Regions from separate parts of the Homo sapiens genome. Here region 1 is linked to region 2. The links come from fine-mapping of genetic effects on plasma protein levels. A gene starts in region 2. The other region holds a variant in brackets. All regions are shown on one strand. Distances are between the middles of the regions. Region 1 has its middle 16 kb from the start of KLK2. Region 2 holds the start of KLK4 (kallikrein related peptidase 4).

What was found. A credible set is the group of variants that fine-mapping cannot tell apart. PIP is the posterior inclusion probability: the model's chance that the variant is causal. Protein levels are from antibody-based Olink assays in UK Biobank. Linkage for the fine-mapping came from a reference panel and not from the study's own genotypes, which makes the PIPs less certain.
Region 1: its variant is the best candidate, but not a certain one, in a credible set for the plasma level of the KLK4 protein (UK Biobank, PIP 0.57).

What each region holds. Positions count from the first base shown.
Region 1 is chr19:50,885,095-50,893,428 of GRCh38, reverse strand. It overlaps the pseudogene KLKP1. Among named protein-coding and RNA genes, the nearest start is that of KLK2, 16 kb to the right of the region's middle. RefSeq lists enhancers at 2,129-2,238, 2,309-2,358. The variant T/C (reference allele first, on the strand shown) is at 3,567.
Region 2 is chr19:50,907,489-50,915,822 of GRCh38, reverse strand. KLK4 (kallikrein related peptidase 4) reads left to right here and starts at 4,428. Exons shown (of 6, transcript NM_004917.5): 1 at 4,428-4,484; 2 at 5,074-5,145; 3 at 6,409-6,571; 4 at 6,994-7,244; 5 at 7,328-7,464. The coding sequence starts at 5,085.

The DNA.
Region 1 (8,334 bases), 22 kb after region 2:
TCAGGTTTCATAGACTGGACACATCTGGCTTTTCTCAAGCATCTTGTGACCCAAGCCTCCCTGTGGTCCTAGGCTCCTCCCTATGGACACAAAGCCTAAGTCAGCCACCATGTTGGACACACCCACAAGGGGGCAGACGTGGGCAGTGCCATGTGATACATGTGACTGGAGAGGCGCACGGGTGATGGTGGGCTAGTTGCGCCGAAGTGACGCCATAGTGGTGCGCCGGGATCCTCATAGTGCTGATGATGTCAGAAGATGCGCCAAACGCCCTTCAGCTGTTTAGAACCAGCGCGCTTGCGCAGTTCCTGCTCGTCGGGCTCCTGCTGGCCCAGCAACTATAGGGAGCTAGCAGGCCAGTGGTTACCCACAAGCTGAGTGTGGAGTAGACAGAAAGACCCAAATGTTAGCAATCTGGGATCCCCAAGCCCTGTGATAATCTGAAATTCCACTTACCACCTCCTGAGGCCCTGGTACCAATGGCCCCTACTCCTGCCTCTCAGATAGCTAAGAGTTCCAATGTGTGGGCACACACCCATTGGGCTGTAGTCCCCAAGCTCCAGTACTTTTGTCCTCAGAGGAGTCAAGGACTCTCTCCCCAACCCATTAAAATACAGGAGTCCAGAATCCCAACATTTTCCTTCTCCAAGACCTTGGACTCCCGGCTTTCAGCCTTCTCCAACTCCAGGTACAGAACCCATGGGTTCCTACTCCCAGCCACGTTTTTCAGGACCCTGACCCCTGCCTTCTTACCAGGTTTGGTAGTGGGCCTCAGAGAGCTCACAGCGGGGGACAGTGCATGAAGGACCACAGTTAAAATGTCCACATTCAAAGAAAATCACTTGCCAAGATTGGGAGCAGAGCATACACTCCTCAGTTCCCAGGACCTAGTCACCGTCCTAGGCCTCTGGGATGGGAGTAGAGGATCCATGAGGACAGGGTCCTTCTCACCTCCTATTCCCTGACTGTGCCCTTATCTACCTACATATTCTTCACTTATGCCTTCCCCTCAGTTTCTCCAGGAGCCTCTGATATGTTTTTAAAATACTGTTTTCTCTCTAGCTTTAAAAAACTTTTGCCTCTTTTCCCTGGAACTGTATCCTTTTTTGTTCCCACCACCCATCTCATGTGTTATAGGTTCCCAAAAGAGAGAGAAAGGGGAAAAGACCAGAGGGCAAGAAGTTCTCTGTGGTTGGGGATGAAGATAAGGTCACTGGATACAGTGAGTTCAGACAAGTGGTCACTTGGAGCCAGTCATTCAGGCTCATTCATCTGTCACAGATATTAAATGGATGTGACACTCAGTATGTATGACACACAAATTTGGTCCCAGAGTTTGGGTATCTCGGCCAAACTCAGGGTCATACAAGGGCACAGATGTGGCCATACTAGATTGTGGACCTACATATATGCACAACCAGACTTTCAAACTTAGGTATTGGTAGGTACAGCATTTACAGCTTACCTTCACGTAACATATAAATAGATCTCAGCTTCGAGGGTCACTATATGGACATTGATATTTGTATGTAAGTGTGGACAGTTAAGACATGGGTGTGGCTAGGCACAGTGGCTCACGCCTGTAATGCCAGTACTTTGGGAGGCCAACGTGGGTGGATGACCTCAGATTGGGAGTTCAAGACCAGCCTGACCAACATGGAGAAACCCCTTCTCTACTAAAAATACAAAATTAGCCAGGCATGGTGGCACATGCCTGTAATCCCAGCTACTCGGGAGGCTGACACAGGAGAATAGCTTGAACCAGGGAGGCAGAGGTTGACTTGAGCCAAGATCATGCCATTGCACTTCAGCCTGGGCAACAAGAGCAAAACTCTGTCTCAAAAAAAAAAGACATAGGTGTATGTGTGCATACACACGCGCACACACGCGCACACACACACACACACAGAGCTTTGGACATAGAAGCTTGGACCAAAATCTACACTCCACTGTAGGTCTGGATACCCAGTGTTCCAGTTGCACACACTTGCACACAAGGTCTGAACGTACAAGGTGGGGGCCTTAGTAAAGGTACACAGGAGAGAGACACTGATATGCAGTGTTGGGTTTGACTTTGAGGGGACATATCCTGAGTAGCCCCTCCAAAAGCAATTCACAGACATGGGTCTATAGTATGGTGGTTGTATCCAAAAGTATGACCACCTGGGATCAAACATATTATTTCTGAATCTTTGAGAAAATTATTTGACCTCAATGTCTTTCCATTTCCTCATTTGTTCATGGGGGTTTCCTTAAGACTTAAATAGAAAAATGTGTCTTTGTGTGTATGCCTGTGTGTGGGTGTGCATGATAATGCCTGGCACACAGTAACTGTAATGCATAGTAATAAATATCAGTTATTTTAATCAAGGACACATGACTTAGTTATGGTACATACGTGTGCACGTTCAGATTTTGAAAACAAATATAGCCAAAATCAGACATATGTGCAGACCCAGATAAAGTTAGTCAAAGCTAATACTGTGATTCATCCATAAAACCACTTAGTGGTGATTCAGAGTTGCAGACACCAACCCCAAGGGCCAGACATTCAAATACAGCTTCATAGGTTAGATTCCTGGCTACTCCCAGACACAGAGTTGGGCATTTATGGGGAAAGACATATTCTGGAGACACAGGCAGCTGGGACAGGAAAGATTTATCTGTCTCTAGATCACCCCCCAAGTCAGACACTTGGTGTTGAAGGTTACTCATCAGTTTTCCCATATGGGGACATGGCTCACATGTGTGGGCAGGTAGTGGACAGCAGGGCCTTGCACACCCACCACATACACATGTGCATGCACATACACACACACACAACACACACACACGCACACAGAACTGCACTACGCACAAGTACCAAACAAGGACTTTTCACAGTCAGAAGACCCTGAGCCTCTACACTGGGAAACGTGGATATGTCCCCTCAAAGTCAAATCCACACATAAACAGACAGCAACAATAGGGCACATCCAGATCAGATCCCCATATTTTTCCTGCCATCTTTGGGAACTGGGCCTGGCACACTGGTGAGGCTAGGGTAACAGATGTGGCAGACAAGGGGTATAAGGAAGAAAGTATAAGTTTGTTTTGCAGGGAAGGTTAGAGAATTTAAATTATGATTCTGAGAGAAAATTCTCCATGGGCCTCTCATGTTTCTACATGGCTTCAAAGTGAAAAAAAAATTGCTTTGGACTATCAAGGATGTTTGGCTAGCAAGCCATCTTGCAAATGGTATTTTCAACAAAACAGCTTTGCTTACCGACCAGTGTAATAATGTGTCCCTTAAAGCAGATTTGTTTAGTGTTCAGTACAATAAATATAGTATGTTCCTCCAGAGCAGGTCTGTTTGTGGTCGGGATAACGAAGAATGTGTCTCCCTCTCGGACAAATATTAATAGTCCCTTCATACGATTCAGGATTCCTAAGCTCAGGTTTCTCAGCTGTGGGTCAAAGCATCGTGTCACAGGATCCTCCTAAACTTCTCTGATCATTCCTGTGGGACTTAGGGTCAAGGCGAACTGATGTGAACACAAAGCTCATGCTGTCTTCTGTGCTGTGAG[T/C]AATAAAGTCCTTTGCCTTTGATCCAGAATCCAGTGTGTTCTGCCAGTATCCATAAAACTGTGGCAGGCTAACTTATTTGTTTGCCAGTTGGCAAAATATCAGCCCCTTCAGAGTTTTTGACAAACAGTTGGGCACTAAGGCTGCACCTGTCCAGCTGGAGATGGAAGGGTGGGAGGTAGGAGGGGCCCCAGCTGGGCACAGCCACATGACAGAAGAGGGACCAAGGCTAGGTTGAACTTTTTTGAGGGCAGTGTAAGCCAAGCTGAAGTTGAACTTTCTTGGCCCTTGGAGTTAGGAGGGGCCCCAGCTGGGCACAGCAAAATAACAGAAGAGGGAACAAGGCTGAGTTGAACTTTTCTGGGGATAGTGTAAGCCAAGCTGAAGCTGAACCTTCTTGGCTCTAGCTGGATCCTTCCAGATACAAATTCATCCCACCTTTGGCATAATAAATTTCCTTTCGCCATTTGTCTCTCCTCCTCCCCAACATGCTCTTCCTCTTGGGTTCTCCCTCTTGGGAGAGTTCACTGCTTCCTCAGGCACCAGGATAGATGCCAAGTGCCCCACATCCTGCCAGACACTGGCCACATTCTATCTGTCCCCTGGATCTTCATTTTTAAAGCCTCAGGCCACATCCTCTAACTAGACCCTTTCCCCAGTCTCCTGACCATAATCAGAGTCTTCCCACATGTCTTCATTCCAACTTTTGGGATCCCTACCCTTTCAATTATGCCTTCACTTTAATGGCAGACAGCATGCATGCTGAGGATTTAATTAGCACTGTAATTCAGCCACTCACACAATAAGATTCTAGGTTTGATTTTCAGAAATCTCAGCTCTGTGGCTACAGGAGATAAAGGTTTCTTTCAACATCATAGACATAGCAACTTTAGATTATTTCTTCAGTCTGAGATCTGGAAATTTAAAGTCCTGTGCTCATTCTTTTCTTTTTCCACTTTTGCCAACACAACTAGAAGCAATCATCCAATTTCATTATGCTTGTTACTTTAAAAAATATTCTAAAGTGTCATATACATGATCACCCTGGTCATTTCTCCTTTATTTGATTCGGAATATCCAGTGGTGTTATTTTGCATATCTCTATTGCCACATTACACCACGGACTTTTATTTCTGTTTGTATTACTGAAAATAGAGTTGTGGTGCCTTTAATTTATTCGCATTACAGAACCAATTCCAAACACTAGAAATGCCAGAACTAATTCAGAAAGCTCATCCTTAAGACTTCCTTCCTCTAGAACAACTAGTAAAGTTTCTCTCAGACAGGATTTTTAGAGAAACAGAAAAAAAATAAGATACACACACACAAATATACACATGCAAAGAGACAGACAGAGATGGAGACGGAAAGACAAGGACAAGAAGATGGAATCTGAGCTAATGGCAGAGACATGGAACCAGTAGAGAAGAGACCCACTGTCTTCAGAGAGTGCTGACCAGGAAGAGGAGAAGCCTTGGGGACTGGATCAGGTGTCTGTCCCTAGGTCCCCATTCCTGACTCTTCTCCTGCCACCCTGATCTGGGTGTAGCATCATATTAGGTAATTTGGCTGAAAAAACTGCTAACTTGGGAAAATGTCCCCTGTCCATAGGAGCAGGACATCCCAGACTCAAGAAGCTCATAAACCCACAAGCACTCTGTCCTTCATCTCCCCACCACAGCCTCCTAGACAAGACCCCAAATCACCCCACATACTTTGCTCCCAACCCAATGCCTGCTCCAGGCAATCTCATGTCTCCTACCCTAATCCCTGGGGTTTGCCCTGCTCTCAGAGCAAAGTCTCCCCACCAGGAACAGCCACCAACCCAAACCCCAAGGAATGGTCCAGAATCTCAGGCCCTCCTGTGTCCCTGGATCCCCAGCCCTGGTCCTCTGCCCCCTTCAAACCCACAGCCCAGCTCCCTCTCTTAGCCCAGTCCCTGGGCCCTCCTGCCAAGCCTGCCCTCCCTGACCCAGCACTCCCTCTGCAGATGCTGTGATTGCCATCCAGTCCCAGACTGTGGGAGGCTGGGAGTGTGAGAAGCTTTCCCAACCCTGGCAGGGTTGTACCATTTCGGCAACTTCCAGTGCAAGGACGTCCTGCTGCATCCTCACTGGGTGCTCACTACTGCTCACTGCATCACCCGGTGAGTGGGGACCTGGGGTCTGGGGAGGGGTGTCTGTGCCCCACAGGAATAACAGTTGGGCATTTCCCCTCAGATGAGGCTGGGGACAGAGGGAGAGAGACAGGGAAGGTTCTGGTTCAGGTTGCATGAACAGGCATTGGGGACCACCTTCCTGGGGGCTGCCTTGGTCTCTCACCGTATATCTGTCCATCTAGTCTCTCTGTGTCTCTTGGTATATGGCTCTGCTGTGTCTGTGTGGCTGTGTTTCGGCCTTGATCTCCCTCTCTCTTCTCTGTCTCTTGTCTCTGTGTCTCCCCGTCTCTGTTTTTCTCTGCATCTCTCTTGGCCATCTCTGTCATTGTGTATCTCAGCCCCCATCTCTCTGCCCATCTCTCTCTCTCGGCCATCTCTGTCATTGTGTATCTCAGTCCCCATCTCTCTGCCCATCTCTCTCTCTCTCTCGAGTCTCTCTCACCCCTCCCCACACCTCCCCATTGCCATCCTGAGCCTCTGCGGAAAGGAATAGAGGATCCCTGAGAACAGAGACTTCTTCCTATGTGGCCACCCTTCCCAGTGCCCTACAGTACCTACATATGTGAAAACCATTCACATATGCTTTTCCCACAATTTATCCGGAAGTCTTTGGTTTTTGGGGGAGTTAGTTTTGTTTGCTTTTTTGTTTTGTTTTGTTTTGTTTTTGAGACAGTCTTGCTCTGTTGCCCAGGCTGGAGTGCAGTGGTGCAATCTCGGCTCACTACAACCTCTGCCTCCCAGGTTCAAGCGATTCTCCTGCCTCAGCCTCCCGAGTAGCTGGGAGTACAGGCGCATGCCACCACGCCCAGCTAATGTTTTTCGTTTTTTGTTTTTTGTTTTTTGTTTTTTTAGTACAGACCGGGTTTCACCATGTTAGCCAGGATGGTCTCGATCTCCTGACCTCGTGATCCGCCTGCCTTGGCCTCCCAGAATGCTGGGATTACAGGAGTGAGCCACTGTGCCCAGCCTCTGTTATTTTTGAAGCACTCTCCTCTCTTTAGGTTTTACAGCTGCAGCCTGTTTTTCCAGAACTTCTCCTTTCATCTCCTATCCTACATGTGATAGGTTCCTGAGAGCCAGAGAGAGACAGACAGAAGGGAAATGAAGGACCAGAGGGCAAAATTCCCTCTGTGATTGGAGATGGAGACAGGTTCACTGGATACAGGTTTAGACAGACGGTTGCTTTCATATGTCAGAGACCTCAAACAGACGTGTCCATTCAATTTGTACGGTAGCATTCTTGGCCTCAGAATCTGGAGATCTAAGCCAAACTCAGCATGCCAGGGAAGGACACATATGTGACCACACAAGGTCATGGACATACATACAGGCACAAGATGGTTTCCAGGCTTGGATACATATATAGACTGTGTGCCTTAAGCAGAAATTCATATGCATGTACGTGTGGCTTATATAATAAGAGCCCAAGTGATCACATGTGCATATAAATATGGACAGGCATGGGTGTAAGCACACACATACACATTCATAGACACAGATTTGGACATAAGAGCTCAAACCTAAATTCATAACCTCCAGTGTGGCTCTGGGTGTGCAAGGTCACGTGGGTACACACTTGCACACAGGGTCTGGATGTACAAGGTTGGGTCTTTAATAAGATTACAAAGGGAAGAGACAGGGATATGCACTCAGAGTCCCAGACACTGATTCACAGACATGAGTATGGTGGTTATATCCAGAGTCTGACCACCTGCATTCAAAAATATCAGCTTTGAGACTTTGAGAAAATTCTTTGATCTCACTGTGCCTCCATTTCGTCTGTAAATTGGAGGTTGCTGTAAAGGTTAGATGGGTGGGAGATACATAGCATCTGTGGATATTCAGATTTGAGAAACAAATATGGCCGAAGTAATTCAGACATAATCACAGGACCGGATATGACAGTCAAGGTCAACACTGCGATTCATGCAGAAGCCAGTGTGCGGTGATTCAAAGTTGCAGGCGCAGTCCCAGAGGCCAGGCATTCGGATATGGACCCACTAGAGCAGATGCCAGGGTAGTACCCAGACACACGGTTGGCCATTCAAGGTCAAAGGTGTAGCTAGAGACACAGGCAGCCAGGAAAGGAAATAATCTACGTCTGGATCAGTGCCCACATCAGAGATACTTGGTATTGAAGGTGACTCATCAGGTTTTGCATTTGAGGACAAATGCACACATATGGGCAGGTAGTGGACAGACAGAGCCTCACACTCCCACCACCCATGTACATGCACACACAGAGCTTCACTATGCACAGATACCAAACAGAGACATTTCAAAGTCAAAGGACCTTCAAAGTCAAAGTCACACACACATATGCACCGAAGAGTAGGGCAGGGTTTGCTCATCCCGATTGAATTACTGTTGTTATATCTACCATGGGCATAAACAGGGCCCAGAACACTGGGAGAACTGGAGGAACGTGCAGTGAGTGAGAGGTGGAAGGGAAGAAAGGGGGGGCTCTCCAGCAGAGAAGGGTGGAGGCCAGGAGCTGAGTAGTGAGTGACAAATTTCCACGAGTCTCTTACATTTCTATATGTATTTTGAGCAAAGGTACTAACATTATCTTACTCGATAATATCTATCAAGGATGTCTGGCTAACAAGCAG
Region 2 (8,334 bases):
TGCTGGGATTGCAGGCGTGAGCCACCGCGCCCAACCTGATATTTTATTATTTTTAAAGTGATGATTATTCCTAATTCCTGAGACGTGTCTCTCTTTCAGCGTCTTCCTATCTTTTTGGCCACATCTCTCAGTGTGTTCCCAGCTCTCTCCTACTCTCCATCTACCCACTTCTGTCTGTTCTTCTCTTTTGGCCTCAGTCTTTCTGTGACCTTGGTAAACTACTTACCCTCTCTGTGCCTCAGTTTCTCCATCTGTCAAACAAAGTTCATAGCAGCATCTACTTCTTAGATTTTTTTGAGGAATACATTTGTTATTGCATTTAAAATACTTAGAAGAGGGCCAGACATAAGGTAAGTTCTTGACCTCCTTACAATTAATTTAACATATTCTAAAGGTTAATTAATAGTAAGCTACCATTGTTGTCTGTTGTTATTTTCTCTCTCCGTCAGCCTTCATCTCTCCCTCTCCTGTCTGTCTCTCTCTATTTTTGTATCTCCCTTTATCCATCCACTCAACACATCTGCAGTGAATAGTTTTTATCAGTGAACATAACAGACACCAGCCCTGTCCCCAAGGGGCTCCCACACTAATGAAAGAAACAGCTACTAGAAAAATAAACACACAAGACGGGCGCGGTGGCTCTCGCCTGTAATCCCAGCACTTTGGGAGGCCAAGGTGGGCGGATCACCTGAAGTCAGGAGTTTGAGACCAGCCTAGCCAACATGGTGAAACCCCATCTCTACTAAAAATACAAAAATTAGCCAGAATTGGTGGCAGGCACCTATAATCCCAGTTACTGGGGAGGCTGAGGCAGGAGAATCGCTTGAACCCGGGGGGCGGAGGTTGCAGTGAGCAGAGATCGCACCACTCTACTCCAGCCTGGGTAACACAGTGAGACTCCATCTCAAAGAAACAAACAAACAAACAAAAAAGAAAAAAAAAGAAAAAGAAACACATAATAATACGTGTATACATTGTACCAAATTCTCTAAAGGAGCATGTAGGATGCTATAAGATGAAAAAACAAATAGGGGAGTGAAGACCCTGAATCAGACTAGGGGAGGGCTCAGGGAAGGGCTCTGAAGAAGTAACACTTGAGTTGAGACACAATGAAGAGAGCGAAGGGAGAAGTGTTGGAAGCGCATGGAAAACAAAGACAGAGCAACATGAGAGAAGACAGGAGGAAAGTGGAGACAGAGAAAGATAGACAGAGACAAAGGTGCAGAGCCACAGACAGAGAGACAGAGACAGAGATGGGAGGAGAGAGACACAGAGAAAGATGGACAGAGACAGGTGCGGAGACACAGACAGAGAGACAGAGACAGAGATGGGAGGAGAGAGACACAGAGAAAGATGGACAGACACACAGGTGCGGAGACACAGACAGAGAGACAGAGACAGAGATGGGAGGAGAGAGAGACACAGAGAAAGATGGACAGAGACATGTGCGAAGCCACAGACAGAGAGACAGAGACAGAGATGGGAGGAGAGAGAGAGACACAGAGAAAGATGGACAGAGACACAGGTGCGGAGACACAGACAGAGAGACAGAGACAGAGATGGGAGGAGAGAGACACAGAGAAAGATGGACAGACACACAGGTGCGGAGACACAGACAGAGAGACAGAGACAGAGATGGGAGGAGAGAGACACAGAGAAAGATGGACAGACACAGGTGCAGAGACAGACAGAGAGACAGAGACAGAGATGGGAGGAGAGAGACACAGAGAAAGATGGACAGACAGGTGCGGAGACAGACAGAGAGACAGAGACAGAGATGGGAGGAGAGAGAGACAGAGAAAGATGGACAGACACACAGGTGCGGAGACACAGACAGAGAGACAGAGACAGAGATGGGAGGAGAGAGAGACACAGAGAAAGATGGACAGAGACAGGTGCGAAGCCACAGACAGAGAGACAGAGACAGAGATGGGAGGAGAGAGAGACACAGAGAAAGATGGACAGAGACACAGGTGCGGAGACACAGACAGAGAGACAGAGACAGAGATGGGAGGAGAGAGAGACACAGAGAAAGATGGACAGACACACAGGTGCGGAGACACAGACAGAGAGACAGAGACAGAGATGGGAGGAGAGAGACACAGAGAAAGATGGACAGACACAGGTGCAGAGACAGACAGAGAGACAGAGACAGAGATGGGAGGAGAGAGACACAGAGAAAGATGGACAGACAGGTGCGGAGACAGACAGAGAGACAGAGACAGAGATGGGAGGAGAGAGACACAGAGAAAGATGGACAGAGACAGGTGCGGAGCCACAGACAGAGACAGAGATGGGAGGAGAGAGACACAGAGAAAGATGGACAGACACAGGTGCAGAGACACAGACAGAGAGAGAAGGCAAGGTGAGACAGAGACAGGAGGAAAGAGAGACACACAGGGGCAGACAGAGACAGACAGAGATCAGAGGGTCACAGACAGAGGTCAGAGGGAGAGCGAGAGAGAAGGGATCAGAGAGAGAAAGGGACAGGGACAGGGAAAAGAGAGACAGAGACAGAAACCTGCCAGGGCTTCCTGTTCTGTGGTCCCAGCCTATGTCCCGTCCTGCCCAGAGTTATCTGGGGGCGCACGGGCCCAGGACAGAGTTGGGGGAGGGTCTCACTTGGGATGCTTCCAGTCTGGCAGGTGAGAGAAACAGAGACAAGGGGGAGAGAGACAGAGATGGGACCAGAGAGGCAGAGGAAAAGAGAGCCAGAGAGAAAGAGAGACAGACACACGGGGTGGGCTGTGGGGGAAAGAAGTAAGGAAGGAGAAGGAAAGAGTGTTAGAGACCCAGGAGAGACAGAGAGACACAGAGACATTCCTGCCTCGTCGCGGTCACCTGCGGGCACTATCCCTCACCCGCGCCGGCTCCGCGGTCTACACCCACCCACTCCTTGGATGATCTCACCCGGCCTCGTGGCTGTAAACACCACCTCTCCCCTGATGAGTCCCCGCTGTTTCTCGGCAGTCCTGACCTCGGCCTGCCCCTCCGTGCACCCTCCGCGGTCTACGGCACCCTCTCACCCCCCACCCCCCTTCCCGCACCTATGCGTCTCCACAAGATCCGTAGAGCGCAAGCCAGCAGACCAAGCCTCCACGCCATCCTTGGCCCCTCTGCTCCTGGCCCCCCACTTTCCATCCATCGGGCAGTAACTTGGCTCCACATGCAGAGGGGACCCCGTGTCCATTCACCTCTCTTCTCCCTTGACCCCGTCACCTCCCACCTGGGCTGTTGCCACTGCCCCCCGCCCCGCCCCCACCATCACTCTCCAAGCTGGAAGTTTTTAAAAAGTAAATAAGATTATGTCACTCCATCCTCGTGCTTAAAATCCATTGCACTTAAGTAAAACCCAAGCTCCTTAATCCTGGTACGTAAACTCCTGCAGGCCCGCCCGGTTCCCGGTCTGCGCTCCTACCCGCCCTGCCCTCCTACCCGCCCTGCCCTCCTCTGGCTGGAGCCAAGTTCTCCCCTGCACCCCGCAACCGCCCCTGCTGCGGCGACCCTCCTCCTCCTCTTCCCTGGGATCTCAGCTTAAATGTTCCCCTTCTCTGAGTCTCCCCGACCACCACCTTATATGCTGGTCCCTGCAGTTTTCCTTTATGGTCTGTGCCCCCGGGTAGGACGCGATCCCCAGTGACGAGGACTTTGCTGGTTCCTCCTGTGGCCCCAGCACCTGCCGCAGAGCTCGGAGTGTGGTAGGCACTCAGCTGCTTTTCACTGAGCGAAGACTTTTTAGTTCTCCCGCTCACCGAGAGCCTACAATGTGCCTGGCACTGTGTGCCTTTCCCTGAATTACCTCTTTGAATCCACTTGGGAAATGGGGCATAATGGTCACTCCAGTTTTACAGTTGGAAAAACAGGCTCACAGGGGTGCAGTCACTTGCCCAAGGTTCCAAAAATAGTTCGTGATGTAGGCTGGATACGAACCTGGGGAAATTTGCTGGAGAAGCACAGAAAGAGAGGGATGAAGGAGGAGGGGAGAGAGAGAGAGAGATTTAATTTAAAAAGAGAAAGAACATGAGAGAGAACAGGAGAGAATGAGAGGAAATGAAAGAAAACACGAGAAAAATAATGAGAGAGAGAATGAGAGAAAGAAAGAAGAAGAGAAAGAGAAAATGAGAGATACAGGCAAGAGAGAGGTATCTCATGAGAGAGAATAAGAACATGAAAAGAGAAAGAATGAGAGAGAGAGAGAGAAAGAAAAAGGAGAGTGGAGTCTAGGATCTGGGCAGGGGTCTCCTCCCTGGGTCCCTAGACCCTGCTGCCAGCCCCTTCTGGGCCCCCAACCACTGCCTGGTCAGAGTTGAGGCAGCCTGAGAGAGTTGAGCTGGAAGTTTGCAGCACCTGACCCCTGGAACACATCCCCTGGGGGCAGGCCAGCCCAGGCTGAGGATGCTTATAAGCCCCAAGGAGGCCCCTGCGGGAGGCAGCAGGCTGGAGCTCAGCCCAGCAGTGGAATCCAGGAGCCCAGAGGTGGCCGGGTAAGAGGCCTGGTGGTCCCCCACTAAAAGCCTGCAGTGTTCATGATCCAACTCTCCCTACAGCTCCATGTCGCTGGATTCTCAGCCTCTGTGCCTTCTGTCTCCACATCTCTCTAGACAGATCTCTCACTGTCTCTAGTTAGGAGTCACTGTCTCTAGTTAGGGGTCTCTCTGTCTCTCTGAATCTATATCTCCATGTCTAACTCTCAGACTGTCTCTGAGGATATCTCTCAAGCACTCTGTCTCTCCGGCTCTGATTCTCTGTGTGTCTTCCCTCCATGCTTGTTTGTGGGTGGCTAGACACCATCTCTCCCCATTCACAGATGGCTAGATGCTTTCTCTAAACTTTCCTTTCTACCTAGTTCTCTCTCTCTCTCTCTTTTCCCATCTCTCTCTCTCTTTTTCTCTCTCAGTCTCTAAATCTGTCTCTCTAGGTTCTGGGTCCATGGATGGGAGAGGGGGTAGATGGTCTAGGCTCTTGCCTACCTAATAACGTCCCAGAGGGAAGAAAGGGAGGGACAAAGAGAGGGATGGAGAGACTTGGGCTGAAGATCCCCAGACACGGCTAAGTCTCAGTCCTCATCCCCAGGTGCTGACGTGATGGCCACAGCAGGAAATCCCTGGGGCTGGTTCCTGGGGTACCTCATCCTTGGTGTCGCAGGTATCTGAGTATGCGTGTGTGTGTCTGTCCGTGCTTGGGGGCACAGTGTTTGTTAATGTTCAGGTGTGACTCAGTGTCCTCTTGCTTGTGACTGCAAAGCTGCCTGTGAGACGGTACCGTGTTATCCGTCCCCCATGGCTGTGCCCCTGCAACTCCTTGTATCGTGGTAAATTTGTGTGTGGCAGTGTGCCTGGGTGTGTGGTTGTACCTGTGAGACTCTGACAGTTTGTGCCTCTGAATATCTGGTGGAGTGACAACAGTGTAATGATGATATGGGGACAGGGGAAGCCGAGGGTGCAGGAGATTGTGCTTCCTGGGGCGTGATCCATTGCTGGGAATCTGTGCCTGCTTCCTGGGTCTTCAGTCCTGAGATCCCCCTCTCCCATCCCCAAGGAACTCACCTCACAGGACTATAAAACGGTGTTTTGGTGTGCATGGGCTTGTGGCTTGGTGTGACTGTGGGCAAGGCTGGGAGAGGATAGGAGTGACTCGGCGCAGGACCGACTCTTTGAGCATCAGTCTGCGCAGACAAGTGACCCGATCCTTGCTCCCAGCAACAACTCCACCCCCTGAGCTTTAATTCACCCCGAAGGACCCGATCCTACTGCTATGAGCCTAGACTCCTCTGTTGAACCCCTCCTGACCGTGGCTTTGCACCGCGATGGCACCAGTCTCACCTCCAGAGCTCACCCCAGAGCCCTGACTCCGCCCCAGAAGCCCTGGTCCCACCTTCTGAGACTGCCTCTAGCCATAACCCAGCTCTTGAAGCCTTGATGGCGCCCCTGCGCTGTAACCCCAACCCTAGGAGCACTGATCCCGCCTTCTCAGCCCACCCCCATGCCCTGACTCTCCTCCCAGGAGCCCTGACTACCCTGAATCCCTGACCAGGCTCCTGCACCGTGATCACCGCCCCTGGGAGCCCTAGGCCTATATCCTGGACCAGCCCCTGAAGCTCCGATCATGACCCCTGCACCATAACCCCACCCCCAGGAGCCCTGGGTCCGCCCCCTGGGCCCGCCCCCAGCCCTGACTCGGCCCCCCAAGAGTCCTGACTGCTCCTGAAGCCCTGACCACGCCCCTGCTCGGTAACCCCTCCCCCAAGAGCCCTGGGCCCGCCTCCTGAGCCCGTTCCCAGCCCTGACTCCGCCCCGAGGAGCCCTGACTGCTCCTGAACCTCTGACCACGCCCCTGCTCGGTAAGCCCACCCCCAGGAACCCTGGGCCCGCCTCCTGGTCCCGATCCCATCCCTGACTCCGCCCTCAGGATCGCTCGTCTCTGGTAGCTGCAGCCAAATCATAAACGGCGAGGACTGCAGCCCGCACTCGCAGCCCTGGCAGGCGGCACTGGTCATGGAAAACGAATTGTTCTGCTCGGGCGTCCTGGTGCATCCGCAGTGGGTGCTGTCAGCCGCACACTGTTTCCAGAAGTGAGTGCAGAGGTAGGGGGAGTGGGCAGGGCCTGGGTCCGGGGGCGGGGCCTAATATCAGGCTCATCTTGGGGTGCTCAGGGGGAAACAGCGGTGAAGGCTCTGGGAGGAGGACGGAATGAGCCTGGATCCGGGGAGCCCCAGAGGGAAGGGCTGGGAGGCGGGAATCTTGCTTCGGAAGGACTCAGAGAGTCCTGACTTGAAATCTCAGCCCAGTGCTGAGTCTCTAGTGAACTAAGGCAAGTTCTTGTCCCTGAATTTTTGTGAATGAGGATTTGAGACCATGGTTAAGTAGCTCTTAGGGTGTTTAGCGAAGAGGGTGGGGTTGGGGTTAGGAGATGGGGATGGGAATGGGGTTGAAGATGAGAATGGAGGTAAGGATGTAGTTGCCACAAAACTGACCTGCCCTCCGTGGCCCACAGCTCCTACACCATCGGGCTGGGCCTGCACAGTCTTGAGGCCGACCAAGAGCCAGGGAGCCAGATGGTGGAGGCCAGCCTCTCCGTACGGCACCCAGAGTACAACAGACCCTTGCTCGCTAACGACCTCATGCTCATCAAGTTGGACGAATCCGTGTCCGAGTCTGACACCATCCGGAGCATCAGCATTGCTTCGCAGTGCCCTACCGCGGGGAACTCTTGCCTCGTTTCTGGCTGGGGTCTGCTGGCGAACGGTGAGCTCACGGGTGTGTGTCTGCCCTCTTCAAGGAGGTCCTCTGCCCAGTCGCGGGGGCTGACCCAGAGCTCTGCGTCCCAGGCAGAATGCCTACCGTGCTGCAGTGCGTGAACGTGTCGGTGGTGTCTGAGGAGGTCTGCAGTAAGCTCTATGACCCGCTGTACCACCCCAGCATGTTCTGCGCCGGCGGAGGGCAAGACCAGAAGGACTCCTGCAACGTGAGAGAGGGGAAAGGGGAGGGCAGGCGACTCAGGGAAGGGTGGAGAAGGGGGAGACAGAGACACACAGGGCCGCATGGCGAGATGCAGAGATGGAGAGACACACAGGGAGACAGTGACAACTAGAGAGAGAAACTGAGAGAAACAGAGAAATAAACACAGGAATAAAGAGAAGCAAAGGAAGAGAGAAACAGAAACAGACATGGGGAGGCAGAAACACACACACATAGAAATGCAGTTGACCTTCCAACAGCATGGGGCCTGAGGGCGGTGACCTCCACCCAACAGAAAATCCTCTTATAACTTTTGACTCCCCAAAAACCTGACTAGAAATAGCCTACTGTTGACGGGGAGCCTTACCAATAACATAAATAGTCGATTTATGCATACGTTTTATGCATTCATGATATACCTTTGTTGGAATTTTTTGATATTTCTAAGCTACACAGTTCGTCTGTGAATTTTTTTAAATTGTTGCAACTCTCCTAAAATTTTTCTAATGTGTTTATTGAAAAAATCCAAGTATAAGTGGACTTGTGCAGTTCAAACCAGGGTTGTTCAAGGGTCAACTGTGTACCCAGAGGGAAACAGTGACACAGATTCATAGAGGTGAAACACGAAGAGAAACAGGAAAAATCAAGACTCTACAAAGAGGCTGGGCAGGGTGGCTCATGCCTGTAATCCCAGCACTTTGGGAGGCGAGGCAGGCAGATCACTTGAGGTAAGGAGTTCAAGACCAGCCTGGCCAAAATGGTGAAATCCTGTCTGTACTAAAAATACAAAAGTTAGCTGGATATGGTGGCAGGCGCCTGTAATCCCAGCTACTTGGGAGGCTGAGGCAGAAGAATTGCTTGAATATGGGAGGCAGAG